Homo sapiens: one gene and its partners. The protein of the gene in region 4 binds, or shares a complex with, the protein of the main gene of each other region. Each region holds a gene or a part of one and is shown on either strand. Other genes may lie near its edges. The genes, in order: RBM48, SRRM2, SNRNP200 and CWC27.

Evidence for each region.
Region 1: CWC27 (region 4) and RBM48 share a complex: the UniProt entries of both Homo sapiens proteins name them as parts of the minor spliceosome.
Region 2: CWC27 (region 4) and SRRM2 share a complex: the UniProt entries of both Homo sapiens proteins name them as parts of the minor spliceosome.
Region 3: CWC27 (region 4) and SNRNP200 share a complex: the UniProt entries of both Homo sapiens proteins name them as parts of the minor spliceosome.

The regions. Positions count from the first base shown.
Region 1 is NC_000007.14:92,531,795-92,538,816, reverse strand, and holds part of RBM48 (RNA-binding protein 48), read right to left. Parts: intron 6,414-7,022; coding exon 6,268-6,413; intron 4,580-6,267; exon of another isoform or gene 4,416-4,579; coding exon 3,847-4,415; coding exon of another isoform or gene 3,733-3,846; exon of another isoform or gene 2,390-3,732; intron 2,384-2,389; coding exon of another isoform or gene 2,273-2,383; exon of another isoform or gene 1,967-2,272; coding exon 1,880-1,966; 3' UTR 1-1,879. UniProt on the Homo sapiens protein: As a component of the minor spliceosome, involved in the splicing of U12-type introns in pre-mRNAs.
Region 2 is NC_000016.10:2,747,835-2,755,651, forward strand, and holds the start of SRRM2 (serine/arginine repetitive matrix protein 2), read left to right. Parts: upstream 1-4,803; 5' UTR 4,804-5,012; intron 5,013-5,071; exon of another isoform or gene 5,072-5,222; coding exon of another isoform or gene 5,223-5,272; intron 5,273-7,817. UniProt on the Homo sapiens protein: Required for pre-mRNA splicing as component of the spliceosome. As a component of the minor spliceosome, involved in the splicing of U12-type introns in pre-mRNAs.
Region 3 is NC_000002.12:96,302,547-96,309,992, forward strand, and holds the start of SNRNP200 (U5 small nuclear ribonucleoprotein 200 kDa helicase), read right to left. Parts: upstream 3,001-7,446; 5' UTR 2,892-3,000; coding exon 2,847-2,891; intron 2,323-2,846; coding exon 2,159-2,322; intron 785-2,158; coding exon 613-784; intron 1-612. UniProt on the Homo sapiens protein: Catalyzes the ATP-dependent unwinding of U4/U6 RNA duplices, an essential step in the assembly of a catalytically active spliceosome. Plays a role in pre-mRNA splicing as a core component of precatalytic, catalytic and postcatalytic spliceosomal complexes.
Region 4 is NC_000005.10:64,799,918-64,806,939, forward strand, and holds part of CWC27 (spliceosome-associated protein CWC27 homolog), read left to right. Parts: intron 1-330; coding exon 331-410; intron 411-1,384; coding exon 1,385-1,415; intron 1,416-4,311; coding exon 4,312-4,469; intron 4,470-7,022. UniProt on the Homo sapiens protein: As part of the spliceosome, plays a role in pre-mRNA splicing. Probable inactive PPIase with no peptidyl-prolyl cis-trans isomerase activity. As a component of the minor spliceosome, involved in the splicing of U12-type introns in pre-mRNAs.

The DNA of each region.
Region 1 (7,022 bases), on a different chromosome or scaffold from region 4:
AGAACTCTTTTCATCTTCCAAAACTGAAATTCTATGCCCATTAAACCGTAACTCCTCATTTTCCCTCCCCACAGCCCCTGGCCACCACCACCACCAGAATCTGCATTTTAACAAGATCCTGAGGTGGAGATCATAGCAACTTATAGTCTGAGAAGCCTGAACCAGACAGCAATTTGCTCCTTCCAATTCTATGCTTAGGTCTCTAATATATCCTTTACCTGAGATTTCAGCAAAAACTGTATCTAATTACCTCACATGGAAGTAGGGCCTACCCTCCTTATCTGCAGCTTGCTGTTAGTACCATCTACCACTTGGAGCCATCCTAGTTAATTTGGATCAGTGTGAGGAGAGAGGCCATTTCTCTTCCTGTCTCCCATCTCTGAAGAGGAGGAGGGAGTAAAAGCTGAAAAACAACAGGAATGGAGCCAGTGGCAAAACCAACCGACGCCACTGACCAGGCCTGAGGTTAAAGATTAACCCCCCAACTCTAACCATGTGTTGCCTATAGATCACTTGCTCCGTCTATCACAACCCTTTCACGCAGACCCTCTTACAGTTGTAAGCCCTTAAAAGGACCAGGAACTTTTTCTTCAGGGAGCACGGTTCTTGAGACACAAGTCTGCCGACGCTCCTGGCCGAATAAAGCCTCTTCTTTCTATAACCTGGTGTCTGCGGGGTTTTGTCTGCAGCTCGTCCTGCTACAAGTACATCATAGCTGAAATTGAACCTTATTAACTGGTATGTTCAAATTCAATCCACTAGGCAAGAGGCCATTAAAGATAGGGAGAAATGAAAACAACACACCACGGTATGGACCTTCTCAAGTTATTTTTATCAGTAAAGAAAATGGCCAGGCACAGTGGGTCACACCCATAATCCTAGTACTTTGGGAGGCCGAGGTGGGTGAATCACTTGAGCCCAGGAGTTCAATACCTGCCTGGGCAACACAGTGAGACCCTGTCTCTACTAAAAATAAAAAAAGAAAAAGAAAATAGAGACAGTCTAGATGTACTGAAATTTCCAATTATGTAATCCACTGACAGAAAAAAGTGTGGATATGCCAGAAGTAGTAACAGAAGTCTAGAATTTATAAATACTGATGTATTTTTGGATTGCCACAGGTCAAGCAAATTCTTAAAAGTTATTTAAAGCATATAAGGTTCTAATTTCAGCTTTGTTCTAATAGCTAATCTACTTTTTACTTCATAGAATTGTCTTGATTTTGAAACCCTGGCATTCGGAAACATCCTGACTTCTAGTGTTTCAATGGTTCATTCAATACTTGTATTATAATTGGAAACAGACGCTGGCTGCCTATCTTTATTTCTATTGTAAAGTTTCCATATTTGCTTCAATTAATTTACATATAATTACTGTACATGAGAGATAATGTTATGACAAGAATAGTTTCTGCAACATTAAGTATGGGTCAAAAAAAGAAGAAATGGGCCAGGCGCGGTGGCTCATCCCTTTGGGAGGCTGAGGCAGGTGTATCACAAGGTCAGGAGTTCGAGACCAGCCTGACCAATATGGTGAAAACCCATCTCTACTAAAAAAAACACAAAACTTAGCCAGGCATGGTGGTGCACGCCTGTAATCCCAGATACTCAGGAGGCTGAGGCAGGAGAATCGCTTGAACCCGGGAGGTGGAGGTTGCAGTGAGCCGAGATCACGCCACTGCATTCCAGCCTGGGCAACAGAGCAAGACTCCATCTCCCAAAAAACAAAGAAATGACTTTAGACAAATGGCTTGAATGAAATTACAAAGAGGAGTGCATTAAAAAATACCAGCAGTAAAATCTCTTGAAGAATTAAAATGACAGGCTAAAAATAAATAATAAATGTTCTTTTTAGAAAATACTAAGTTGCTGCTGGCACTCTATATTCTTCTTCTTTGTTTTAATGGATGACTTGTATGTACATCTTCTGGCTTGTCCTCTGGAGGCTTTGGCACAGATGAAATTACCTAATTAAAAAAAAAAAAGAACCATTAAAACTTAGTTTCTATAGCACAGGAGTAAATAAGCTATTAGAAGAGGTAAGACTACATCCAATAGTTCAATCCTTGATGTCACTTTCGAGGCAGAGTTCGCCTAAGTTCAAGGTACAGCCTATGACCTAGGCACAGAGTGGAGTCTTCCATTTGAATACTGATGACAGTAAAATTTCTAAAGCTATTTAAAAAGAAAAAAAATTTGGAGGAAGAAAAGTGAACATATGCTCTACTTTAACATTCCTTTATAGATCTAAAGACACTTGTTATATTACGGATTCAGATAGATATCCTGGTTTTGCATTCTTGAAACACTGATAACGTTTGATAGATTTGGGGGGATGAAAACCTTTGGAGAAATGAGCAGGAAGCAGTATAATCCTCAATTTCCTGGAGAAAAAGGAAAAGCAAACACACCATCAGAAAAAGAGTGTACAAAGAGTATACAATAAGTCAAAGCAAAGTAAGAGTCTTCATTTGAAATGGAAAATTATTAGAAACTATAGTAAACTGTATTTAATATCTTTTTTTTGTTGTTCTATTTCTGGACCTAGAATTTGGACTTCACACGTTTATCTTGAAAATGTAATCAGCTCTGGTTGAGACAGGTATGTATCTATGTCTATGCCTCAGTTCAGCTGTAACTGAAGGAAGGAAGTAAGGGTGGCAGCACAAACTGAAAACCTTTTTTTTTGAGACAGGGTCTCACACTGTCACCCAGGCTGGAGTGCAGTGGCATGATCTTGGCTCACTGCAACCTCCGCCTCCCAGACTCAAGTACCCTTCCACCTAAGCTTCCCAAGTAGCTACAAGAGTTCACCACCACGCCTGGCTAATTTTTGTATATTTATGGTAAAGATGGGGTTTCATCACATTGGTCAGGCTGGTCTCAGACTCCTGGGCTCAAGCAATCTGCTCACCTCAGCCTCCCAAAGTGCTGAAGTTATTGGTGTGAGGCACTGGGCCCAGCCTAAACTGAAAAGCTAAAGAAGGCTTCAAAACTGTGCCCACGGATTTTAATTATTATTAAATAATACCTTTAATCAGATATTTTTAGGTAAAAAATGTACATATATGAAATTAAACTACCTTAGCCTCCCTTAATCACATTGTAAAATATGAGTAAAACTATGTGAAAAGCAGTTTCTGCATCTTGGAGTAAGTATAAGAGAATGTCATAACCCTCAGTTTATGATTTGTAACAGTAGTCCCTACCCCACAAAAAGGTGTCTTTCAAAAGCTAACTCAGATGTTAACTTCATTTGTGCTTAGGAAATGGAAAATGATTATGTAAATGACATTAAAAAAAAAAACAGACTACCTAGGCAGCACAATCTGATCCCGATCATTTAAGAAGTCTACATTTGAAATGCATACCTGGAGGCCTAATTTTTAGAAATCTCACCACCTTCTATTGCTCTTTATCACAAAAGCAAATTAAGCATTTTGAATTTGATATAAACTGTAATAACTCTAAATTTGAGAGAAATAATTTACAATACTTTTGCTTCTCAACTTTGGCTCATATTAGAACTACCTGGGGAGCTTTTAACAAAAATGGCAGGCCTGGGCTCCACTCTCACAGATTGATTTAATTGGCTGAAACCACTGCTTTAATATTTTGTATCTACAGTGATATAAAATGTCTGTTCATTGTTTAAAGCAAGTATTAACAGTTTAAAGCAAATAAAATGTTAGCCAAATTCAGTTATTTCAACAGAGAACTGTAGAAAAACACATCAAAACACTAAAAAGTGAAAAAAAATTACAGTACTATTGTTCCCACAAATAATTCTCCATTTAATCCTATAACCAAATCGTGTCTTAGAATAGTTTTTTAAAAATAACCTTACCTCTTTAAGTTTATGCCGAATTAAATTCGCCGTTGTATTCAATGAGTCATCGTGCATATCCACTTTAGAGATGTCTGGTAACAGAGGTCCAATCATAATCTCATTACCAGTTGGGTTTGTTTGAAGAAAAGTTCCAAGTTTACGATCATCTTCTCTTCTTCTTTTGCGCTCCTGCAGTTGTGTTGTCCTAGGCATAAATCTGTCAACTGCCTCTGAAGACGTAATAGCCTTTTGTGCACCAGGGCAGGCCACTGAGTTTTTCAAAGAGTTTATCTGTGTTTTCCGCAAAGAGTCATTGTGGTTATAATGCCCCATTGTTTTATGATGGTTTCTACCATCCTTAGAGGAGTCTGGTGCTCTGTCTACAGGTCCCCCGGATGAACACATACATTTTGAGGAGAAATAACATAAAGGCAATTCACAGGAATACGGAAGATAAGGATTTGAGTTCCCTGCAGAAGTGTTCAAAGCAGCTTTACAAAATCCAGACATCTCTGAGTGGAAGTCTTGTCTAAAATCCTCTGTGTCTTTATGCTCTGTAACCAATTTCTTCTTTGTCACGTAATGGTCTTTATATTACAATTTAAAAGTTGAGGGAAAGGGAAACAGAAGTGGTTTATTGTTTTCATCATTCAGAATCATATAATTTAAAAAAATCACTTAAAAATGTTAACAAATTCTACTCCAAAAAAATCATTTCTTGAGAAGGGTATATATTCACATGGTTTAAAACCTAAAACGGATAAAAAGATATATAGCATCAAGTGTCACCCTTTCCTTGCTCTCCATGGGTCTGGTTTCATCCCCATAAGTAATCACTATTGTTTTTTATTTATCTGTTCAATATGTCTCACTTTGCCACCTCCTTCCTCCCATTTTCTCCCCACTTTAAGATAACCTGTAATACGCATTTCTCTGCACCTCTGCATTTTCCATTTCACTGTAGATCTTACAGAGGTTTTTCATCATTATATAGAAAGGTTTTTTTTTTTTTTTTTTTTTTACAATTTCAGAGTATTCCACTATCTGGATGTATCATGCTCCTTGGCTTGTGTTTGTTAGTCACTAAAGAAAGCAATATGCTTGTCGCACTTCTAGGGCTGGCAAGGGCCTCTTCCCTGGTTTACTCTCCCAAAAGCAGATTACAACAGGAATGGAGTATGGAAGATGTGGTAAAGATGAAATTGGCTATGTGTTGATGATTGTTAATGTTAATATTAATACATGGGAGTTATGTTAACTTAGTCTCTCTGCCTGTGTGTTTTGAAATTTCCATAATAAGAGTTTTTGAAAAGTAAGACCACGTATACAAATGCATCTTGTAGAGGCTAGAATGCTGCAGATGAAAGAGAGCTTAACTAAAGTGTCCAAGGCCAAACAAGTCATAGTTTAATTCTGAGGTCAGCAGCACAGCAAAAAGGTCTTAAGAGGAAGGGGAGCAAATAATGAAGATAATCCTAGGCTGTCACCAACACTGAGATGATTAAAGCAGTTAAAAAGTAAACTCTGGACAGAGTCCAAAGCTTGGGTTTTAACCCTTATTTTGTCTTTAATTCATCTCTAATAATATAGGCAGGTCACAAACTTTCTGAGACTTAGTTTCCTCACCCAGAAAAATTAGGACCCAGGTCAGATAATGTCAAAGGTCTTTCTCCACATTAATATTTTATAATTTCCTTTGCCACACAAACATACAAGTTTTCCTGGTGCTATTTATTTACTTATCTTACAAGTTAGAGTTCAATGTCTGCAGATGACTGGGGATTCTCAACAGCTCTCTTACCAGATTTCTGAGTAAGTTTTCCAAGAGTTTTCCCACTTTATTTCTCTCCATCACTATGTGGTAGAACAGGCATGTGGGGGCATTTAGCCAATTGCTGGTCAAAAGTAGAACTTCTCCATGATTAGCAGTGACAACTATATGATTTGACAACTGCAAATCATAACTGCTTCTCACTGCATTCTGGTCAAAGCCTTAATTCCTTAGCATGGGACACAAGGCCCTCCATGATTCACTTCTTACCCACTTTTCTAAACTTATCTCTCACTGAAACCTTTGGGCTTTGGTTATACTGTATTAATTAAAGTTCCTTAAATGCATGATGCTCATTTATTCCTCTAAACATTTAAACATCTTGCCTGGCTTGCCTTTCCATCTTTTCCTCTCCCATTTAGTTAACGTCTACTTATCCTTTAAAATTCAGCCACTTCTCACATACTATAGGAAGTCTTCTATGAACCAATATTTCTCCCTTCTCAACCCAGATTATGTAGTGTGCTGCAGAGAACCCTGTGGTTCACAGTTACTGAATACTGTGATGGTTTACTTGCCTCTCCTACCACTAGACTGGGAATTGCATGATGACACACCTGGCAGAGTGCCTGACACACAGGAGGCATTTAGCAATATGCTTTCCATACCTTTATTTTCAGTAGTTTTTACTACATATGCCTTCCGCATTTGTAGTTTTTTTCTAGTTTCTTCAACTGTTTCAAATTCTGGAGCATAGCACACATGAAGCAATCCACCGAAGAAACTCTGTTCATCCATTTTTCTCTTGGCTGTCCTGAATGGAAATACAAGATAGCATAGTTTTTTAATCTAGATTTACTTGGGATGAAAGCTTAACTAGTATGCAATATCTGGATCTAAAGAGCAAAGTCCAGCTTTTGCTACGTGTATATATATCCTGTGGATTGGGAATTAAGATGCTCTGCTTGTGGACAGTATTCATCCCATTGATCGAGTATGTACTCGTAGAGCCTCCCCTTTCCTTCCCTTTGAGCCTCTTTGTTCCCTAGTCTTTAAACAACTAAGGACCCAGCTGGTTGGCCTGAAGTATGTAAACTGTGGTCATAAAATGGAGCTTTTCTCTGTGGCCCTGAAGAGTTGGTTCATACCCAATTAAGCTTTTTCAGCACTATGTATTTCTGTGATGGGATTCATGCCTTAAAAATCAGATGAAAGATACTATAATCATAAAACATTCAATAACTGAGGAACTATTAAATATATAACAATGAGAAAATGAGAAGAATGTTATTCAGTCAATAAATACTTACTAAACATCTATGACTGGCCAGGTACTACAATAAATTTAACTACTTCTATATCCAGGGATAATGATAAATACTTGTTGAGATTTCACCATATGCCAGGCAATGTCATAAGCGCT
Region 2 (7,817 bases), on a different chromosome or scaffold from region 4:
GTCAAGCTTGGCAGTCATAATTCAATTGGATTTTCATAATTTACTTACTTTTTGTAGTGATGGGGTTTTGCTATGTTGCCTAGGCTGGTCTCGAACTCATGGGCTCAATCAAGTGATTCTCCAGCCTCAGCCTCCCAAGCAGCTGGGATCACGGGTGTGCCATTGTGCTAGGCTTTGAAATTCTGTAAATTTCACTTTGGGAGGCCAAGGCGGGTGGATCATGAGGTCAGGACACGGAGACCATCCTGGCTAACACAGTGAAACCCTGTCTCTACTAAAAAAACACAAAAAATTAGCAGGGCGTGGTGGCGGGTGCCTGTAGTCCCAGCTACTTGGGAGGCTGAGGCAGGAGAATGGCATGAACCTGGGAGGCGGAGCTTGCAGTGAGCCAAGATAGCACCACTGCACTCCAGCCTGGGTGACAGAGCGAGACTCCTTCCCAAAAAACAACAACAACAAAAAAGAAACTTTGTAAATTTATGACTGTAACCTCTTTCAAAGAGACTAGGAATCTTAAGAAAATAAAATGGTGCTTGGCCGGGCGCGATGGCTCACGCCTGTAATCCCAGCACTTTGGGCGGCTGAGGCGGGCGGATCACGACATCAGGAGATCGAGACCATCCTGGCTAACACGGCGAAACCCCCTCTCTACTAAAAATACAAAAAATTAGCCGGGCATGGTGGCGGGCGCCTGTAGTCCCAGCTACTCGGAAGGCTGAGGCAGGAGAATGGCATGAACCTGGGTGGCGGAGCTGGCAGTGAGCCGAGATCGCGCCACTGCACTCCAGCCTGGGCGAAGGAGCGAGACTCCGTCTCAAAAAAAAAAAAAAAAAGAAAGAAAATAAAATGAGTGCTTTTCTCTGTTTGTTTTTCAGAAATGGGAGGTGGTGGGGGGAGTCTCACTATGTTGCCCAGGGCTGGTCTTGAACTCCTGGGCCTCAAGCATCCCAAAGTGCTGGGATTACAGGTGTGAGCCACCACACCTGGCCCCAATTAGTGCTTTAAAAGCTCTCTAAACCCTTACATCACAAAGAATATCCCTCCTCCCCCTCCAGAAAAGAAAGGGGTGGCTGGACAGTATCGACCTCACCAGATGTGCTACACCAAGGCCAGAAAGAGCCGCTGAAGTGGCTTGGACATGGGCCATGCCAGCTGCACGTGGAAGGCCATTCCTCCCGGCACTCATTTCCAGTGTTTCATATCTGCTTGTCCTGGGTACAGGAACCAGGGCATGTTTCAGAGGTTCAGAGCCAAGTACTTTTGGGGTCTGGGTACTGCACAGAGAGGGCCCAGGCACTTGTTCTGCTTGCCGTGTGCCCCACCATGCCTGCGCTGAGGACCAGCCTCAGTCCATCCTGCCCAGAAGGCTGGGAGCACACATGGGGCCTGGAAGCCAGAAGGCCTCTCAAGAGACCCTGCTTGCAGCCCTGTGGGAGGGGTTGGATGGGGGCTGGGGTCTCCAGATAAAAAGGTAATTCGAGAAACCCTCCCAGGCAGCTGGGAGGTGGGAGGCTATGGCATTAACCCCAGGGATTGTCCTTCCTGAAGGTCTGGTCTCCCTCTGGAGGGCAGGATGCTTTTGCAGACATCATCCTCACCCCCCTACCCTGTTCCCATCCTCCCTAGCACCTGTCCTGGCTGGTAATTGTCTAGTTATTTGTAATGTAAGCTCCAGGAAGCCAGTGTGCAAATGGGAGGTGCTCCACTCACCAAAGGCTTCCCAGTCTTGGGCCCCAGGCCAGGGGGGTCTGGAGGAAGGCTTGCACCACAGGGTCCTCCACCAGGCCATGGAACTGGAAGCTGAAGGCCCACACAAGGCCACTGCCTGGGAGAACAAGCATAGGCAAGTGTGCCCGTCATGGACTGTCACAGAGCGGAGGGAAAAGAGGCCACGGGAAGGACCAGCCTTGGAAGGCCCAACAAAGGAGTTGTGATGTCAACCTGAGGGTGTCTGGAAGAGTTTTAAGCAGTTCAGAAGTTTGCATTTTAGGAACATCACTCCGAGGTGACAGCCGCTAGGATGTCAGCCATGGCTGTCTCTGGGGGTGGTGCCCCTGTGTGCTTTTTTTCTTTTTGCTGATTTGTATATTTCCTGCAGTGAATGTGGTTTACCTGTGCATGTCACTTTCCTAGGGCTGCCATAAGTCACCACGAACTTGGTGGCTTCAAACCACAGAAGTGGGTTCCCCTACAGCTCTGGAGGCCAGAAAGTGGAGACCAAGGTGTGGACAGGGTTGTGCCTCCTCCAAAGGCTCTGGGAGAGGATCTGCAGGGCCTCTCCCAGCTTCTGGCTCCTCCTGGAGATCCCTGGCATGGGCACCGCTCCGAATCTCTGCCTGGGTCTCCTACGGCCTCTTCCCCCGGGTGCCTGTGTCCTCTTGTCTTCTTGTAAGGATGTCAGTCATTGGATTTACGGCCTACCCTAAATTCATGATGATTTCATCTTCAGATCTTTAACTCAATTACATCTGCAAAATCTCTTATTCCAAATAAGGTCACCTTCCGAATGTCTAGGTGGTTGTGAAGTTTTGGGGCACCACCGTCCACCACACTACAGTGAATAAAAAAATAAAGTTTAAAGGGAAACTAAAAAATCATTCTAGGGCTGGGTGCCATGGCTCACACCTGTAATCCCAGCACTTTGGGAGGTTAAGGGGGGAGGACAGTTTGAGCCCAGGAGTTCAAGACCAGCCTGGGCAACACAGGGAGACACAATCTCTACAAAAAACTCCACCTCTACTAAAAATAAAAAAATGAGCTGGGTGGTGGCGTGCGCCTGTAATCCCAGCTACTTGGGAGGCTGAGGTACAAGAATTGTAGTGCGTGGAGATCGTGCCACTGCACTCCAGCCCGGGGTTAGGAGTGAGACTCTGTCCCAAAAAAATAAAATAGACAAAAGACACGAAGAGAAATTTCTCCAAAGATGTACAAACGGCCAACAAGCACATCAAAAGATTCTCAGCATCATCAGTCATTAGGGTACTGCAAACCATGTTTTGTCACTATTCACGGGCATTAAATGTGCTGACTCACGCACAAAACATTCCATAAAGAATATCAGTGGGGGTACAGGAAAGGGTCTCACTGGAGGTGCTGGGGTCTTTAACCAGAAAGGCAAAGCCTTTGCCACTTTACTATGCCACTCCAGAGTTGCGGCCGGCTTACAGAAGCACCGTCCATAGATGCAGAGTTCAGACACTCCAATCTGCGATCAGAGCTCCTGCAGGAGATGGGGGTGGTGGGGGGGAGGGTCTCCCGGCTCTAGCATCTGAGATAAGTACATCCTCCCACGGGCAAGTGAAAAACAAATCTTAAAGCCGGATACGGGCCGGGCGTGGTGGCTCACGCCTGTAATATCAGCACTTTGGGAGGCTGAGGTGGGCAGATCACCTGAGGTCAGGAAATCGAGACCAGCCTGACCAATATAGTGAAGCCCCGTCTTTACTAAAAATACAAAAATTAGCCAGGCGTGGTGGCACACGCCTGTAATCCCAGCTACTCGGAAGACTGAGACACGAGAATCACTTCAACCTGAGAGACAGGTTGCAGTGAGCCGACAACACACCATTGCACTCCAGCCTGGGTGACAAGTGCGAAACCACGTGAAAAAAGAAAGAACAACAACAACAACAAAAAACAAGGGCCAGATAGGGTGTCATGCACGGGTAGTCCCAGCTACTTGGGAGGCTGAGGTCGGAGGATCGCTTGAGCCCCAAATTCGAGAACAGCCTGGGCAAAACCCTGCCTCTTAAAAACACCCCCAAATCGTAATAACAAATATAAATCCTTGCACTCAAATGGACAGTTCATTACGTGGTACCGCGTCCTGTTGCGGATCAAGGCCACCTGAGTTGGTTAGGACAGCTAAGCGGGACGTCCAGGGCTGCTCGCCAGCGGTGGGTCTAGATATGAACTTGTGCTTGAGCAGCCCAGCGTCTTACAACTCTGCTGTGAGGACGGCTGGCTGATTATCAGGCCCAGAATCACGGGCTTAGAAACATTAACAGGAAGTACGGTACCGAAAAGTGGAAACTTTAAGGTGCTTATTATTTTCCTCCTGCCTTGTTCCTGTATGTGCCGCTTCACCGGTATCACGTCCTGGGTCTGGTGGGACCCCGGCCTGGCTGCCCTACCGGAAGCTAAGAAAACTCCTCCCCCAGGGGTGGCCGTCGGGCCTCAGCCCGGTCTACAGCGGGAGAACGTGGCCCATGCTACGGGTAACTGGTTGGGCCCCTGGTGCAGGTCTAGGGCCTGCAGCCAGGCTCGGGGCCTCCGGGGGTGCCCGCTGGCTGGGGTCTGAGGCGGCTTCTCTCGGGTACGGGAAGGCGGACTGCTGTGCAGCTGCGGGCTCGCTCGGGAAACCCAAAGTCACACGAAAGCGGCAGCACCACCGCGGCTGGGATATCGTCTCCCAACATGGGGAGACAAAATGGCCGCCACGCCCCGAGCCGAAATTACATCCGGGCTCCGCGACACGCCCGAACCACAACTCCCAGAATGCTCTGCATCGACAGCGGGAGACGAGACGCGCTCGGGCGTCGCTTTGCTGCCGCTAGGCCCTGTGCTCCTCCCCGCAGCGGAAGGCCTACGAATACGCGGTGTCTTACGTCGCTTCCTCCGTTCTTCGTTGCACTGGCCAACGGGACGCTTAGTCTTTCGGCAACGGGGTGAAACCTTCCTTGTGCCTGAAAAAACGGTACTTCGCGGTGTGGCTTCGGCGCCTGCGCAAAAGGCCGCGGGGCGCACTCCAGTTCCCGGCAGGCCCCGCGACGCGCGTTTGCGTGCTGACGCACGCAGTTAGTCGTGCTGACGTGCAGCGCGGCCCAGGCGGGGTGCGAGTGGCGCAGTTGGAGCCCGTTGCGGCCCCTGAGGAAGCGAGGAGGCGTCGGCGTCGGCTGAGGCGGGCGGACCGGCGAGGCGAGGCGGCGGCCCCAGGCCCGAGGGACTCGGGAGCTCGAGCAGCGGCGGCGGCAAGACCTCTCCCCCTCGGAGGCGGCGGGCGGAGGCGGCGGGTGAGAGGGTGAGGGAGCCAGCGAGCCGGGTGGGGGAGGGGCGGCGGCCCCGGCGCGAGGCCAAAGCGCGCGGAGAACTGCCCAGGCCGCCGAGCTCCTCCGCGCGCACGCGCGCTCGACGCCCTTCGCTGGCGCGGACGCCCTCGCCTCCCTTCCCCCTTCCCGCCGTTCCTGTCGCGCGCGGGCTTCACCCCCCCCCGCCCCTCCCCCATGACAACGGCGTTCGCAGCCGCCTGTACTCGGGTTCGCGAGCGCCCTTGGTGAGGGGGGAGGGCGCGCGCCTCGGCTTCACTCCTCCCCCCAACATGTGCCGCCGAGGTGGCCTTCCTGCAGCTGCCGTTTTCGGCCCTTAAGTGGCGGGGAAGGGGCGGCGGCGGGGGGCTTGCTCCTGGACCCTTGCCCCCGGTTCCAGATCTCCTTTCCTCGGGCTTCTCTTCGGCGTTGGGCTGCCCGTGTCGGGGGCCTCCCAGACTGCGGGACGCCGCGCAGCCCCCTCCCCCATTCCGCAAGGCCGAAAATAGGCCCCCGGCGCTGCGGGGAGGGCCTTGAACTTCGTGGGCCGGATTTAAATGGTTTAGGATTCCCGGCTATCAGCCTTTGAGTTGTTAGTGGCGGGGAGAAACCCCAAATCTTAAAAACTGTGAAGAAAGTGAACGTGTTCAGTTTACATTTGTAAGGTAGACCGTGCGTTCCCTTTTTACACTTTTTCAACGTCTCCCGAGAATTCGTGTTCAAACTAAGGAGGCTTTTGGAGACCTTCGTTGGGAAGAAAACGCCAGACTCATATATAAGTTTTCTGGTTGGTTTCAGGCGTTCTTTGGCACACAGCTCTTCTGAAGCTTGGTTTCCACTCGGCTTCAGTTAGGACGAATCTGGATCAGAATTTCAGAGTGTTGTGTTGTCTTTCATCCTAAGTGCGTGGGCTTAGGGCTCTTCTAAAGCTACTATTTTAGCTTTCTGGGTTCTTTGTGTCCACTCAGCCGCTCTGGAGCGCCCCGGTGCTGAGCTGGCTGTGCTTGCTGATGTCCATTTTTTTCGACAACCCTTGTCTCCCCTTTTTCTCCCCTTTTGGTACCGTTTTCTTTTTTGCATATTTTACTGTTGAATTCAAATATATCTTTCTACTTCATTGTTAGCTTACCACTCGGATAATTTCCCAACAGAAAAGGGTGTTTTTGTCTTCCTTTGTACTTTTTACTTTCTGCTTTTAACTTGGGTAACTTTTGCATATCCACTGTCTATGGCCCCCACTTTAAGAGTTTTGTAATATCGTTTGGTTTGGTGATTTGTGTGTGGTGTTGATCTTCCTACTTTCTGTGTCTTAACACACCCCTTAGATGCCGTGGGGTCGTCGTCTTTTTTTGTGGGGTGGACTAGGTGGCTCATTCCCTAAAAGTTCTCCGAAACATTGTGACCTAATATCCTTTGCTTAGCACCTACTGGTTTTTCTTTTTTTTTTTTTTCCGAGACGGAGTCTAGCTCTGTTGGCAGGCCGGAGTGCAGTGGCGCGATCTCGGCTCACTGCAACCTTCCGCCTCCCGGGTTCAAGCGATTCTCCTGCTTCAGCCTCTGGAGTTGCTGAGATTACAGGCAATCGCCGCCGCCCAGCTAATTTTTGTATTTTTGGTAGAGATGGAGTTTCACCGTGTTGGCCAGGCTGGTGTCAATCTCCTGATCTGGTGATCCGCCCACCTCGGCCTCCCAAAGTGCAGGTGTTACAGGCGTGAGCCACCGTACCCGGCCTGGTTTTCCTTTCTTAAGGAGTGGGGGGATTTTTGTGTGAGGTGGTATGGAAGTGTGGGTGAATGGTTAAGCTGAAGAATTAAGTGCAGGTCAAAAACATGCTGCAGGGGAAGCAGAAATTAAGTGGGGTAGGGGAGAGGCGAAGAAGGACCTAGTTTTAAACCGTGAGGAGGATTGGTACTAGAAGATGAAAATGAGGATTGGGGTGTAGAGAAATTGATTTTTTGAGCCATACAGTTTTTCATTTTTTCCTGGATTTCTGCTTGCCTTATCCAGGTTTAGCCTCTTCTGTCACCTTCTGCTTTCAATATTGGGTCTGCTACTGGGCTTGGGTAGGGACCCATCCTTAGGCGCATGCGCTAGTATATTTTTCCAAACATTTGTATGATGCTTCTTCATTCTGGAATTTTCTAAATGCATCCTTCCCTTCTATCCAGTTCTTTTACATCTTTGATTACTCTCTCCGCTTTACGTATTCCTTAGGGTTTTTTCTTAGTAGTATTTTCTCATATATGCATGTTCTAGGAAACTATCTTGGAGAGGATGAGGGTGAGAAAGAGAGTATATGTAATAGGAGAAAGGAATAGAGTATGTGTAGCCAAGGAATCTAACCAGGAAAGCTGGGACTTGAGAATTTTTCAGAATCACGTTAGGGTTGGGACAAGTTGAAAGGCTAGAACCTGGGAGGAGGCATGGGGTTAACACAGGAGAGAAGGAAGAGGCAGGGCTGAGAGAGAAAAACTAGGAAGTGCTATCCAGGGGATTGGTGGGGAAAGCCAACGGTTGGACATTAATGAAAGTGGGGTGTAGAGAGGGTTTCTACATAGATTTAGGGCAAGGTATATGGAGAAGGTATGGGAACGGTTGGAACAGAGGAGGCTGGTTTGATGTGTTTAAATAGAGCAGAGTTGAAAACAGGTAATATTTGACAGCTGGCAAGACAGGGAGGAACTGCAAATTGTTGTAAATCCTATTGAGAGGAAGGAAATTGAAGGAATAAAATATCAGGATAGTTGATAGGATCTTTAAATATTTGGAATCAAGGAAATGGCCCTTACCTGG
Region 3 (7,446 bases), on a different chromosome or scaffold from region 4:
AAGCTGGGGGTCCTCAAATTCAATTCCGTTCCAACACTAACTACCTGGAGATAGCGTCAGATCCCACAGACTGAGGACTCAGTCGCACAAGCCTGCCTCCCACTTCATGATGCCAGTCACAAGCACAGGTTGTTTGACCTGTGCTTCTCACTATACAGCTATAAATCGAGGTTTCCACAATCCCCTTTTGGGGTTCAACTAATTTTCTAGAGCAGATCAGGGAAACACTTATTTTTACTATAAGGCATATTACAAAAGATGCCTACCAAAAGACAACAGATGGAAGAGGTACACAGGGCAGGCATGTGGGAATGGGTGTGGCGCTACCAGGCCCTCTCAGGCGCACCACCCTCCAGAAACCTCCATGTGTGCAGCTATCCACAAACTCTCTAAACCTAGTCCTTTTGGGGTTTTTATGGAGGCTTCATTATGTAGGCATGATTGATTAAATGACCAGCCTCCATTCTGAACTACCTAAGTGCTGCCAGCCATCAGTCAACTCATCAGCATACAAAAAGATACTTAGCACTTCGAAGATTCCAAGGATCTTAGAAGCTGTATGCCAGAAAATGAAATAAAGACCTAATATATATTTCACAATATCACACTCACCTGGTCCCCAAGAGCAGCCTGGATGAAGCTGAGTAGCACCTCATAGGTCTCCCGAGTCTCTTTAGTTTTGGGCTTGTAGATGATGCCCACCATCTCATCAATGCCCTCCGACAGCAGAGTATAACCCTTCATCTTGTTGATGTCATGCCGGTCCTCATCACGCTTTCTTCGCCTAATGGACATGCAATGTGATATTGAATGGCAGAACCTTTCGTCCCCAAGGGAAGACTGGATCAAGCCCACCCTCCTCTCCTCAGCTTCATGGCAAGAAGTTAATATCTGAAAACAGGTATCTGAGCCTCAGCAAATGATTCCGTTTGGCCTTAATCACTTGCAGGAGTATTTCTTTATGGGACACAGTGACAAAAAGAAAAATTCCCTATCATCTTCTCACTAGATGCACTAAACATTACAATGAGATGTTTCTCATTTAAAAAATACAACCCTTTGGCCAGGTGCAGTGGTTCACGCCTGTAATCCCAACATTTTGGGAGGCCAAGGCAGGCGGATCACCTGAGGTCAGGAGTTCAAGACCAACCTGGCCAACATGGAGAAACCCTGTATCTACTAAATATACAAAAATTAGCCGGGCACAGTGGCGAGCGCCTGTAATCCCAGCTACTCAGGAGGCTGAGGCAGGAGAATCGCTTGAACCCGGGAGGTGGAGGTTGCCGTGAGAGAGATCACGCCACTGCACTCCAGCCTGGGTGACAGAGTGAGATTCCGTCTCAAAAAAAAAAAAAAAAAAAGTACAACCCTTCATACATTGTATGAGACTATTATATAATAGGATTTTGACTAGTTTTTCACCTCTCCAATGCATTTTCCCTTTCTAGCTAGAGAACCAAGCTCTAACAGAATCTACTGCCGTTGACTATCAACAAAGTATAACAAAACTGGAAAAGAAGATATAGCACAAAGTGGAGATAATGTATTAACTCATTTCAAACATAACTACTTTAATCAAACTAAGCCTAGGAATTTTGGAAACTTCATCATAGGAAAGGGAGCAAGACACCAAGATATTCAGGATCAAAAGATAATGATGAGGTAAAGGTAAGTTTTTGAAACATATCCCCAAGAAATCTTAAAAAAAAAAAATAAAGGAAAAAAATGCAAACTAAGAAAGAAACCTGTCTTTCATACTATGGATGCTTAAATTAGTTTGTTACAACAAAATAGGTAGAACGTGGACAAGAGTAAATGGAAAAAGTAGGGGTAGGAAGTTAGTAATGGGAAAAAAGGAAAACGAATTACTGGGACATAGGAATAGCAAGGGTCTTGAAAATACCCTGAAGAAAATTAAGATCTGTCTATGGACCAGAAACACACATGTAAGAAAAAGGTACCAACAAGTTATTTTCCACTTGAGATGCACTTGTTAAGGCCAAAAAATCTTTAAACTCTCCTGGTCTGTTTTTACCTTCACTGAATTGTTTTAATGCCACTGATCTTACACCAAGCATTCCAGCAAAAATGCTGCTCGAATGTTAAAGGGAAGAGACTTTGGATCTGAAGGAAAAAATAGTATCCCCTTGGCACTCACTTGGCTCTTCTTTCCTCCTGCATCTGCGGTTTGGTCCGTTGAGCCTTGTCTCCCATACGGGTGCCCTCCAGCTTCCCAACAAGGGACAGCACCTCTCCTGTGGGTTCATCCCGGCGGGTCCGGTCAATGAGAGAACGGTCAGCTTGGAGCACAAGATTCGAGTTCTGAAAAGATCAAAACATTATTGAAGCTTTGACATGAGCAGGGCCAATTCCTACTATCATAGTTACCCCAGCTGATGGAAAAAATCGTAGTAACTAGTTGCTTATCATCACTAATCGTAATAAAAATATATTTTCCTTAAGAATTGCATAGTATAACGCTGTGCAGAAGCGTACAGCTGAATAAGTCTTATGCGCTGTCGAATCAGCTAAACAATTCTTGTTCCTAACAGCGCCCATCATAACCCACACCTGTGAAAAGTAGTGAGTGGGTTGGGAGTGACGTGTGGAAGGGGGAGGGCTTAGCGTTGAAGGTACTCGAGAAACTCCTCCTAGAGAGATCTTAGCGCTCCCCAGACCCCAGTAGGTTATTCACGTCATCGTATAACCCCCACCTTCACCCCGATTCCATTTCCCCTTCGTTTTCGTGGCTCTCCTGTAGGCCTTCAGACTGAAACTCCCTTTTTCAGCCTCCCCCTCCCCATTGGACTCCTGAGCCTGGAATCCTTCCCCAAGACCAAACGCACCGCCTTGTACTCGTATTGCAGACTACGGGCGGTTACATCCGCCATGGCCGCGGCTGCTCGGAGGCTTCAGACCACCACGCCTCCCTACCGCAAGCTGCAAACGGCCGCAGATCTCTGCTCCCGCCGCGCCGGAACGACGCAGGAAAGACGCACTGGGGAAGGAAAAGAAACGGGTTCCCTTCCGCTTCCGGGTCGCGCCCCAGAAGTGCGGGGCGGGGCGTGTCTGGGGCGTGTCCCTGCCGTGTGCGCGCGGCTTTCCGCACCCTTCTGAGCGGGATATGTGGGCCTGGTGCGTCTGGGTCCCCGAATCCCTAGACCCCCGCACTCTGGTTCTGGCCGCCCGCTGGCACTAAGGACCCAGGGCCCGTGCTCTCCCCGACCTCAGTCTCCAGCCCCCGGCACCCCTCACATCATAACGAATGCACGGCTGCTTAGCCCCTGTCCTGTCCCAAGACCTTTCCTTCCGGTTCCTTCCTCTTTGGCAACAGTCCCATGAGGTAGGCAGGAAAAGAGGGGCCGAAAACCCCATTTCCGTTTGAGGTAACTAAAGTACCCAGCGAGCAAGGTGACTTGCGCGTGTGTCTGTGTTTGTGTGTTTTAATGATTGGCGCCTTGCTTTGGGTTTCTCTTCTGTGTTCAACAATTGAAAAAGAAAGCTACTATCCCCCACCAATCCCACCTAAACCTGTGCCCCCAAGACCCTCGTTTTCACCCAGCTGAACGAACAGGGCCGGGGCCCCCATTTGCTCCCACTTGTCGGTAACATTCTATGGTAGGGCCCTCCCTGCCGCCCAGGGAAACCGGTGAAGGCAGGGCCAAATCCTTGGTGACTATGACTTAATTTCTTCCCCAGCTACAAAGTCTTCTCTGTCCCACATTCCCCACCACTTCTCGCCAGTAGAATGGCGCCTTATGGCTGAAGGTGACCTCCCTCCTCACTTAGAGCATGTTTGCTTTTGAGAAGATGAATGAACAGGAGGATGGGTGTTAAGCCAAAGGAATTCATCCTCAATAGCAGTCCCCTAGACCAGATTTGTTCTGTAGTGGTATCGTGTTTGGCTCACTGTTGGCTCCTTCTTTAAAAATTGGGATAATTTCATGCAAACTCTGGCTCTCCCCCATCAGTTGAGATACTAGAAAATCAGCCACATGACACCCACACTGCTGCATGGCATGACCTGCTGCTGGTCAGCAGCTGCCAAGGTCAGAGAATAGGCAAGTCCTTCCCACTGCTCCTGTTTTCTCATGCCTGCCCATCTCCTTATTTTTACTTGCCCAGCCCCTGTAGGCATGGAGTTTGCTGCTTTGGTGGGTGTTTGTTTTTTTTTTAATAACTCGTCTTCCCAAGGGACAGTCGAGTCCTCATGGCTCTGCTCCTCAGTGGCTGTGTGACTTTGAAGTAGCTAGCTACCTGGCCTCTCGGTGAGCACCATTTTCCTCATCCTTAAAATTGAGGCAATTGGCTGGACACGCTGGCTCACGCCTGTAATCCCAGCACTCTGGGAGGCCAAGGCAGGCGGATCACTTGAGGTCAGGAGTTTGAGACCAGCCTGGCCCACATGGTGAAACCCTGTCACTACTAAAAATACAAAAATTAGCCAGGCGTGGTAGTGGGTGCCTGTAATCCCAGCTACTCAGGAGGCTGAGGCAGGAGAATCACTTGAACCTGGGAGGTGGAGGTTGCAGTGAGCCGAGATCAAACTCTGCACTCCAGCCTGGATGACAGAGTGAGACTCTTTGTCTTAAAAAAAAAAAAATTGAGGCAATAAAACCTTCCTCCCATTGTGATTAAATGGGATAGTGTGTTTAAAAGCACCTAGCAAAGTGCCTGACTCAAGGTGGGGTTCACTGAAAGTTATTGAAATCTGAATCCTTAAGGCTGACTTTTATTCCATGATCAGGCTGTGGCCCACCCACCTGACACGAAAGGGTCTCAAAGGTATTTCGGAGATTCCACTCTGTTTCTGTAGAAGTAGCATTCATGTTCACAGATGCAGCTGGGCTGTGGGCAAACCTGTGAAGCAAGAAAAAAAGGAAACTTTCCCCATCTTTTCTTTTCCTCTCTAATCAGGCTCTACCAAATGTAAATCCTGCATTTAGTCATTCAGATGGACTTATAAGTTTCCATAGTATGTTAGACCTGGTAGGAGCCTTAGAGATGGAGTAGTCTGGTTCCCTTATTTTCCACAAGAGGAGACTGCAGCCCTGGAACAATCGTCACACTAAAATGTAAATAAGGAAGAAAATAATTATGATTTTGAAAAGAAAACAACAGGCTGGGTGTGGTGGCTCATGCCTATAACCCCAACACTTTAGGAGGCTGAGGAAAGAAGATTGCTTGAGGCCAGGAGTTTGAGACCAGCTTGGGTAACATAGTGAGGCCCTGTTTCTACAAAAAATTAAAAAGTAGCCAGGCCTGGTAGTGTGTGCCTGTAGTCCCAACAACTTGGAAGGCTGAGGCAGGAGGATTGCTTGAGCCCAGGACTTCAAGGCTGCAGTGAGCTAGGATTGTGCCACTGCACTCCAGGCTGACCCACATAGCAAGACTCTTCCCTCAAAAAATAAAAACAATTTTTAAATTAAAGATAGAAAAGAAAAATGACAGCCGTGCTTCCTCACTCTGCGGAAGGGGCTCAGGGAAACTTCCTGGGCCAACTTGTTGAAAATGGGGGAAGGTGTCTAGTGAAGACAAGTCAAAGGAGTCACTGCCCCACATGAGAAAGGAAAGAGGAGCTGGGGTTAGACTGGGATGTAGAAAAGGGAAGAGAAAAGTCTTCAGGAAGCAAGAGAGGCCCAGGAAAATGACAGTCAGCCAGGACCTAAAGGAGCCACAAGCAAAGAGAAATTTATTTTACTTTTTTTTTTTTTTTTTTGAGATGGGGGATCTCACTGTGTTGCTCAGGCTGGAGTGCAGTGGCACGATCATGGCTTACTGCAGCCTCAATCTCTTCAGGCTCAGGTGATCCTTCTACTTCAGCCTCCCAAGTAGCTGGGACTACAGGCACACACCACACCCAGCTAATTTTTTGTATTGTTAGTAGAGATGGGGTTTTGGCATGTTGCCCAGGCTGCTCTCGAACTCCTGGGGTCAAGCGATCCACCCACCTCAGCCTCTCAAAGTGTTGGGATTACAGGCTGAGCCACCTTTCCTGGTCTGGGCAAAGAATTTGAACAGACGTTTCTCCAGAGAAAATATACACTGGCCAATAAGCACATGAAAAAATGCTCAACAGCCATGCGTGGTGGTTCACCCCTGTAACCCTAGCACTTAGGGAGGCCGCGGCGGGTGGATCACGAGGTCAGGAGTTTGAGACCAGCCTGGCCAACATGATGAAACCCTGTCCCTACTAAAAATACAAACATTAGCTGGGCGTGGTGGCGTGAGCCTGTAGTCCTAGCCACTCGGGAGGCTGAGGCAGGAGAATCACTTAAACCCAGGAGGCGGAGGTTGCAGTGAGCTGAGAGCATGCCATTGCACTCCAGCCTGGGCAAAAAGAGTGAACCTCCATCTCAAACTAAATAAATAAATAAAAATAAAAATTAGCTGGGCATGGTGGCACATGCCTGTAATCCCGGCCACTCGGGAGGCTGAAGCAGGAGAATTGCTTGAACCTGGGAGGCAGAGGTTGCGGTGAGCCAAGATCGTGCCATTACACTCCAGCCTGAGTGACAGTGCGAGACTCCTCAAAAAAAAAAGAAAGTTAAACATAGAGTTACCCTATGACCCAGCGATTCTACTCCTAGGAATCTACCCAACAGAACTGAAAACATGTCTACATAAACATTTGTACACAAATGTCCATAGCAGCACTACTCACAATAGCCAAAATATTGCAACAACCCAAATGTTCATCAGCTGATGATGGATAAGCAGAATGTGCTATTTCTATACAATACAATATATTATTCAACCACAAAAAGCAATGAAGTACTGCTGTGTGCCACAACATGAATGAATCTCAAAAACATATTAAGGCCAGGGACAGTGGCTCATGCCTGTAATCCCAACCCTTTGGGAGGCTGAGATGGGCAGATCACTTGAGGTCAGGAGTTCAAGACCAGCCTGGCCAACATGGTGAAATCCTGTCTCTATTTTTTATTTTTTTATTTTTGAGATGGAGTCTTGCTGTTGCCCAGGCTGGAGTGCAGTGGCACAATCTTGCCTCACTGCAACCTCCACCTCCTGGGTTCAAGCGATTCTCCTGCCTCAGTCTCCTCATTAGCTGGGATTGTAGGTGCGCGCCACCACGCCCAGCTAATTTTTGTATTTTTAGTAGAGACGGGGTTTCGCCATGTTGGCCAGGCTGGTCTTGAACTCCTGACCTCAGGTGATCCACCCGCCTCGGCCTTCCAAAGTGCTGGGATCACAGGCGTGAGCCACCAAGCCCAGCCCCCTGTCTCTATTAAAATACAAAAATTAGCCAGGTGTGGTGGTGCACGCCTGTAGTCCCAACTACTTGGGAGGCTGAGGCAGGAGAATTACTTGAACCTGGGAGGTAAAGGTTGCAGTGAGCCGGGATCCTGCCACTGCACTCAAGCCTGGGCGACAGAGTGAGACTCTGTCTCAAAAAATATATATTAAATTAAGGCCTGGTGCAGT
Region 4 (7,022 bases):
GCTTCTAAGTTATAGGGGTCATAAAAATTAACTAGTTTCATAGTATGCAAATTATTATGAGAATTTAGTGCTTCAAGTTGGTAATTCAACAGACTTCTTTTAAATGATATATCATTTTTTGAAAGAAAAGGTGTTTCTAAAATACTATTTTCAGTCAATAGAAGAGTAAGATTCTTACTTATAAAACTTTAGTTTGTATTAAACTTTTCAGGAATACATCTTTTGCTAACCATATTATATCATTGCTAGGTTTTATGTAAATTTGTTAACTTGTTATTTAGGAATACTGTTTATTTCCCCCCTCATGATTATATTGTACATTCTTTGCAGAGCATGAAGGGCAAAAGCAAAAGTAGTCATGACTTGCTTAAGGATGATCCACATCTCAGTTCTGTTCCAGTTGTAGAAAGGTTAGTCCATTGTTGGTATGATCCTAAGTTCTTAATTTTCTGGCTCAGATAATTTTCTTGCTTCTTCTGTGAGTAAACAGTCAGTCCTCATAAGTCAAAAATTTTTAAGCCAGCCAAAAAAATAAAGCATTTTGATAACAGAGATAGAGAACTTCAAGCTTGATAGAGAGAAACAAACGCTCTAGTCACTTTCGCACTTGCTCTCTACCTCTGTTGAATGAATTACATTTAAAATTGTTTTACCATTACATGTTAGGACTAGAAACTGTTTGCTTTAACAGTGTAATGCTTAATTCAAGGTTGTTTTGCTACCTTTTCCTTGAAGCATTTTTGCCTTAATTGTATCATGAATGAACAAATTACAGTTAAAGGTTTTTGTGAAGAAGTTACCAGTTTGGGGGCCAGTCCACTGACTATAAATTCTCACATACTTTGAGGAGTTAACAGAAAGTTGTCTTGCTACCTTTGTTGCTTCTCTTTGAGAAGGGAAAACGTCTTGGTGTTAGATGTAATAGCACAAGATAAACTGGGCCAGTATCTCAAGGGGCACTACAATGCTGTTGTACTCAGTTTAGCTCATTTTCGAAACTCCTGTTTTAAGACAATCTTTTCTTAATACCCTTCTATTTGAAGGATTTGGGGGTTTTTTTAGTCAGAATATTTCAAGCCAATAAAAGAAATTGTTTTTTGCAGACCATTGATCATAAAAATAACACTGTCGGTTGTTGTTTGCTTTTTTCCTTTCAAATTCTAGTGAACGCATATATTTGCTAATGAATCATACTTATTCCACTTATAAAAAATGACTCTAAAGAATGTTTCCATCTGTTCTATAATGCCTTTCTTAAATTCCTATGTTGAAATACATTTTTGGAATGTTATTCCCAGCAAACTATTCTAGATTTTTGGGTTACAAAATAATTGTGTTAGTTTTACCTTGAAACTAAAATTTGTTTTGCTTATTTTTTTTATAGTGAAAAAGGTGATGCACCAGATTTAGTTGATGTAAGTATTTATTTTGGTATTAATATAGTTTGAACAATTCATAGAAAGTACAAAATTTTTACAAAAACTTAATTTTGTTCTTAAAAAGTAACGTATATTACTTTTATAGTTATATATGTCAAATTTTGGAAAAATATGAAAAACAGAAATTATTTAGGTGTTAGACTATTTCCTTACTCTAGGGGTGTGCGTGTGTGTGTGTGTATATCTCTCTACAACATTAGAATCTTATATATGAATTTCTAGTCTGTTTTTTTCTCCCCCTCACATAACATTACGTTAATACTCAAACTTCAGATGTTATAAATTTATTGTATTAAAAGTTTAAATATTGGTGTGTGGGCATCCTACATGATATATGGGAAATGCTTGGATCAGTAATTTATAGTAGTGTCTCCTTTTTATATACACATTTCAAAAGATTCTCATTCAAGAGTGTAGTGATCTTTATTAGTTGTAGTGGCTAACAAAGCTAACAAAACAGAAGGAAGATTTTCCTTTAATACATAAGAGTCAAGTTTTTCAAATTATACATATGCCACTTTTTATATAAAAACCCATTAATCTGTGCATTGTATAATTTACTAGGAAGTACATAACTTTCCATGCATGAACACAGATTTATCTATTATCACAGTCAAAAGAGAAGGCTCTCTATGGCTATCAGTAGTAGATAGAGAGAGGATGAATATCTGACCTTGTCAAGAAAAGCTTCCTGGAAGAGATGATGCTATTTATGTCTTATATGAGAGTTAGGAGTTAGCTAAGTCAGAAAAGAAAGTGATGAAGGGGGTGAGGTCCCTCTAGCTCAGAGAATAGCATATGCTAAAGCATGGAAATAAGGAGAGATCATACCTTATTTAGGAAATACAAACGGAAATTTAAAGTTTCAAGGAGTCTGTCTTGTGAAGAGCAAGGAAGAAGAGTATTGAAGGTAAGGGGAACTGCATATACAAAATGGTCCGAAGCAGGAGAGTTTGGTGTGTTCTAAGAGCTGCAAGCAGGCCAGCGTGAACAGGGTGTGGTGACAGGCCAGAGCTTCATTACAGAGCTTCATAGGCCATGGTGAGGGGTTTGAGTTTTTTCCTAAAAGGAAGTGAGGAACAGTTGAAAGGTGTTTGTTAAAAAGAAGGATGCTATGATCAATTTTGCATTTCAGGAAGATCACTATTGGCGATATTATAGAGGACAAATTAGAGGAAACAGACTGATACTGGGAAGCTATTGTAGGAGGAGAGCTTGATATAAGACCACAGCTGTGAGATGGGAAAGAGGTAGATTTGAAAGAGGTCTAGGAGGTGACTGATTCTACACTATGAGGTGAGGGAGGAGTAGTCCAAGACAACCACAAGGTTTCTGGTTTGAGCAACTTGTTAGATGGGTGCAAAAGAAAGCATAGGGTTGAGGTGGAGAAAAGGATGAAAAATAATGAGCTTAATTTTATACATTTCAAGATTGAGGTAATTTGGAGACATCTGTGTAACATAATATGGGTCTAGAAGTTAGGATCAATGTATAGGATAGAAAGTAAAAGTATAGATTTGCTCTTAATATCATGGGTGAGTGACTAAAACTGTGAATCCTTTCCCAGGAAAATGTACTACATTCACAACCAAAATTATATGAATTTGCAGGGAATTTTTTTTAGATCTCCTGAGGCCTGAGCATGGAAGGCCTAGGTTGGTGGTTGTCACCTTTTAGTGCTTAAGAATTACTTAAACATCTTGTTGAAAACATTCGTAATTCCTACCCCAGAGATTTTGGTTCAATAAGTCTGCAATGAGGGCTAGAATTTTAGGTGTTAATAAACAACTATGTAATACCATCTAAGGACCAGACTTTGAGGACCAGTGCTTTAGGGGTCCACAAGTCTCAAATTAAGAATCCTGCTTCACTACGACTCACCAGATCAAAGAAAGAATCACAAAAGAAAAATGATCCACTTGGGGTTATTTCTTCCTTCTTCTCTCCCCTCTTTCTTCCCTTTGTTCCTCCATCTGTCAATGCTGGGCACTATTCTAGGAGTTGAAGATACAGCAGTAAGCAAAACAGGCCAGAATTTTAGCTCTCATGGAGTGTTTGCTGTAATTGGATGACAGACAATACACATGCAAATAATTAAAATATATGGTGTATCAGATAGGTGATAAGTACTTTGGAAAATAAGCCAGGGAAGATGAAAGAGTACTGGAGGTAAGTGTGTGGTTCTACCATTTTAATAGGTTAATCTCATCACCAAGAGGGTAACATTTGAGCAAAGATCTGAAGGAGATGAAAGAGCAAGCAATGAAGAGATATCTGGAATAGAGTATTTGTTTCAGGCTGGAGAGAACAACAACTCCAAAGTTGGCTAGTGTTGGTGGGCTGGAGTTGTAGGAGATTATGTCAGGGAGGTTTAGATTGCATAGGGCCTTGAGTGAGTTGGGGACCCACTAGAGGGTTTTCACAAGAGAAGTGATTGCTGTGACTTGGATTATAGAAATCTCAGCTTCTGCACTACACCTCTTCTACTTGAATTGATCCCTGTTGAGGTCAGTATGCTGGCCAACTGCCTTCAAAAGCCACATTTCCCACTGAGATAAGAATAGGAATATAGACAGAATAGCCCGAGTGACACAGAGGGAGAAGTCTGCTGCACAAAGGAGCTGGGCATGAGTTGAGCGAACAGCCTTTCCTGGGGTATCCCATAATTACATAGTTGGCTTAGAGCAGAACCCAGGGCTATTCCCACCTGTAGCAGATTCTTCAAGGGCTTATAATTCAAAACAAAAGAAAACAAAATAAAAAAAAAAACCTAGTTTAGAATGCAATAAGGAGATTCAGTGGATGCAATAGATCTCTAGAAATGAAAGGGGAAATTGAGCACCTGGCAAATACTCATTTTCCATTTCTACAGGATGGAGAAGATGAAAGTGCAGAGCATGATGAATATATTGATGGTGATGAAAAGAACCTGATGAGAGAAAGAATTGCCAAAAAATTAAAAAAGGACACAAGTGCGAATGTTAAATCAGCTGGAGAAGGAGAAGTGGAGAAGAAATCAGTCAGCCGCAGGTGAGTCAGTTACTGTGCTAGATATCAGAGTTTTTGTCTTTTTATATTTCACTTTAATTCAGATTGAATCCTCTCTTCAGCTAATTTTTAAAATACTATTTTCATAATGTTTGATAAACATAACAGTTGTACAAATTGGCCCATTAGCAGGCCTAAAATAAAATACACCAAGCTTAAAGTAAACATAACAATGATCCTATGAGTTCAATTCCATTTTATTTCTCTCTGATCCTTTTTTAGAAAGGCTCTATACTTTCATATATATAGGGTAATAATGTATTAGCTAGATGTGGAAGAATGCATTTGTTAAATACCAATGAGAGCAGTAGAGTAATTGTATAGAAAGAAAAGAGACATCCTCAAATAATTTCGGTAAGCAAAATTTGTCAAAACTGATGAAGAAAATGAGTGAGCCTGAAAACATTCTTAAATATCTTTTCAAGTCTGATTTACCAAATACCATATACCTATCCTAAGCTCAGTAGTATCATAAAATAAATTTCAGCAAATGGTGAAAAGTTTACTGTCTGGTGATGAAAGTTTGTTGGATTTATGACTCAACATTTTATTCTCCTGAAATTCAACTTAATTGAAAAATTATCTCTTTTGTGATTCTATTTCAACTTTATAGTATACATTTTAAATAATATTGCTTTAAAAAACAATAGTATTTGTTTTCTTCAAATACTATTTGGGGATAATATGAATGTAACTACATTTAAATAACATTCTTTTTCCCTATCATGTTTCTCAACCACATGTAGAAAAACTTAAAAAGGATTTCCACGCTATCATTGCATAGCTCCCTCAATTTTTTCTTTATGTAATCAAATAAAAATGATTCCCAGAAATTTCCACTAAAAGCATAGCTTTTAACATTTAGAAATGGTACTTAGGAGTCATCTTAAATGTCTTTTTTCCAGCAATATTCACCTGACACTCAAGTAATCACTGTTGAATAATTTTACATACTAGATTATATTATATATACCATACATAGTAGCTAATATAGACTAAAGATTTTAGTGATCATATGCATGCTTCTAGATTCATAGAGTTGAAAAACCTCTCATTCACACTGTAACTTTTAGTTAAATCATGAATATAATTATGGATACATAATGTTTTATTCCTCTCATTCAAGGCATGTGTTTTCTGATTTTAAAAAATTATGAATTTTTTTAAAGGTTAGGTTTATAATGTAACAAAAATATATTTAAAAATTTTAATAGATGAGCCAACCAAATATTTATTTATGTTAGATTTAAGTGTTCCTTAAACTCCCAACTCAGTCTTGTAGGCTTTAATCAATTTCAAATACTTATATACCCTATAATATAAACTATAATTTAGCAATGCTAAATTTTGTATAAGAACTAAAGTTCATTTTTAATGTACCTTTCATAAGTGTCTTTAAAAAATTGTTTACCTAATATTAAGAAAAGTCAAAGTTTGCATTTTCCAAAATTGTGTTCACTCTTACAATTAAGGGTTATTCTTAAAAGATTTCCTTGGCTGTAGTATGGGCCTGATGACCAAACATGGCATTGATAGCTAGATTTAGGAATCTGATCTATCATGAGAATACTGGAGAGCCACTGAAGTTTTTACAGGCAAATGATATATTGAGATTGTATTTAGTATGGAGAATGGATTGATAGAGGAGTGTTTTGGGCTATTATACAAAATACCATAGACTGGATGACTTAACAGACATTTAAAGCTTAGTTTTTATGGTAATTTCTTACATAGGAACATATATATCCACTTACTTATGTAAACAATTTTTCTCTTTTTATAAATCAGTATAATTTGCAAAATTAAAATCACATAATTTGTATATTCACTGTAGAGGAAAAAGTTATATTCAAGTGCATTGCAAGTCTACTAAGAAAATTAAATAAATTTAAAAAGTACGTTAAATACTTTTCTACTTAGAAAAGTAAATTAAATAAGAAGTCTCCAAAGGTGGCTTGAATATTTTAGGTAAACATGAGTATTGTGGACATTGTTGGATTCTTTTAGGTAAAATAATTGGCAAAGTGTGCCTTTGTAAATGGTGCAGACAGCACACATTTATTTATAACTGTTCTGTTCCCCCACATTTTCATTATTCACATTCTCTACTCTCCCTCCTTCATCCTATCTGTCCTACCTACAAAGAGAAACAAAAGAAAAATAAGGTCAGGATAGAGGAGAAAGTACAGAATTTCAAAAGGAAGAAACAGTTTTTTCCTCTAGTGTAGAAATTTCCATGATTGTCTCATGACCACGTATTTTTTTCAGTTCATAAAGTTGCCAAAATCAGACCCTGGCATGGTGGCTCATGCCTGTAATCCCAGCTGCTCAGCAGGCTGAGGTGGGAGGATTGCTTGAGCCTAGGAGCTCTAGGCTGCAGTGAGCTATGATCCTGTATGGGCAACAGAGCAAGACCCTGTCTCTAAAAAAATAAAAATAAATTTTAATAAATTTCCAAATCATTAGTACTTTTGGTTATTTATACCAGCGAGTCTCTGAAGTTAACTTTATGGTTAAAAAATAAAACAACACAGG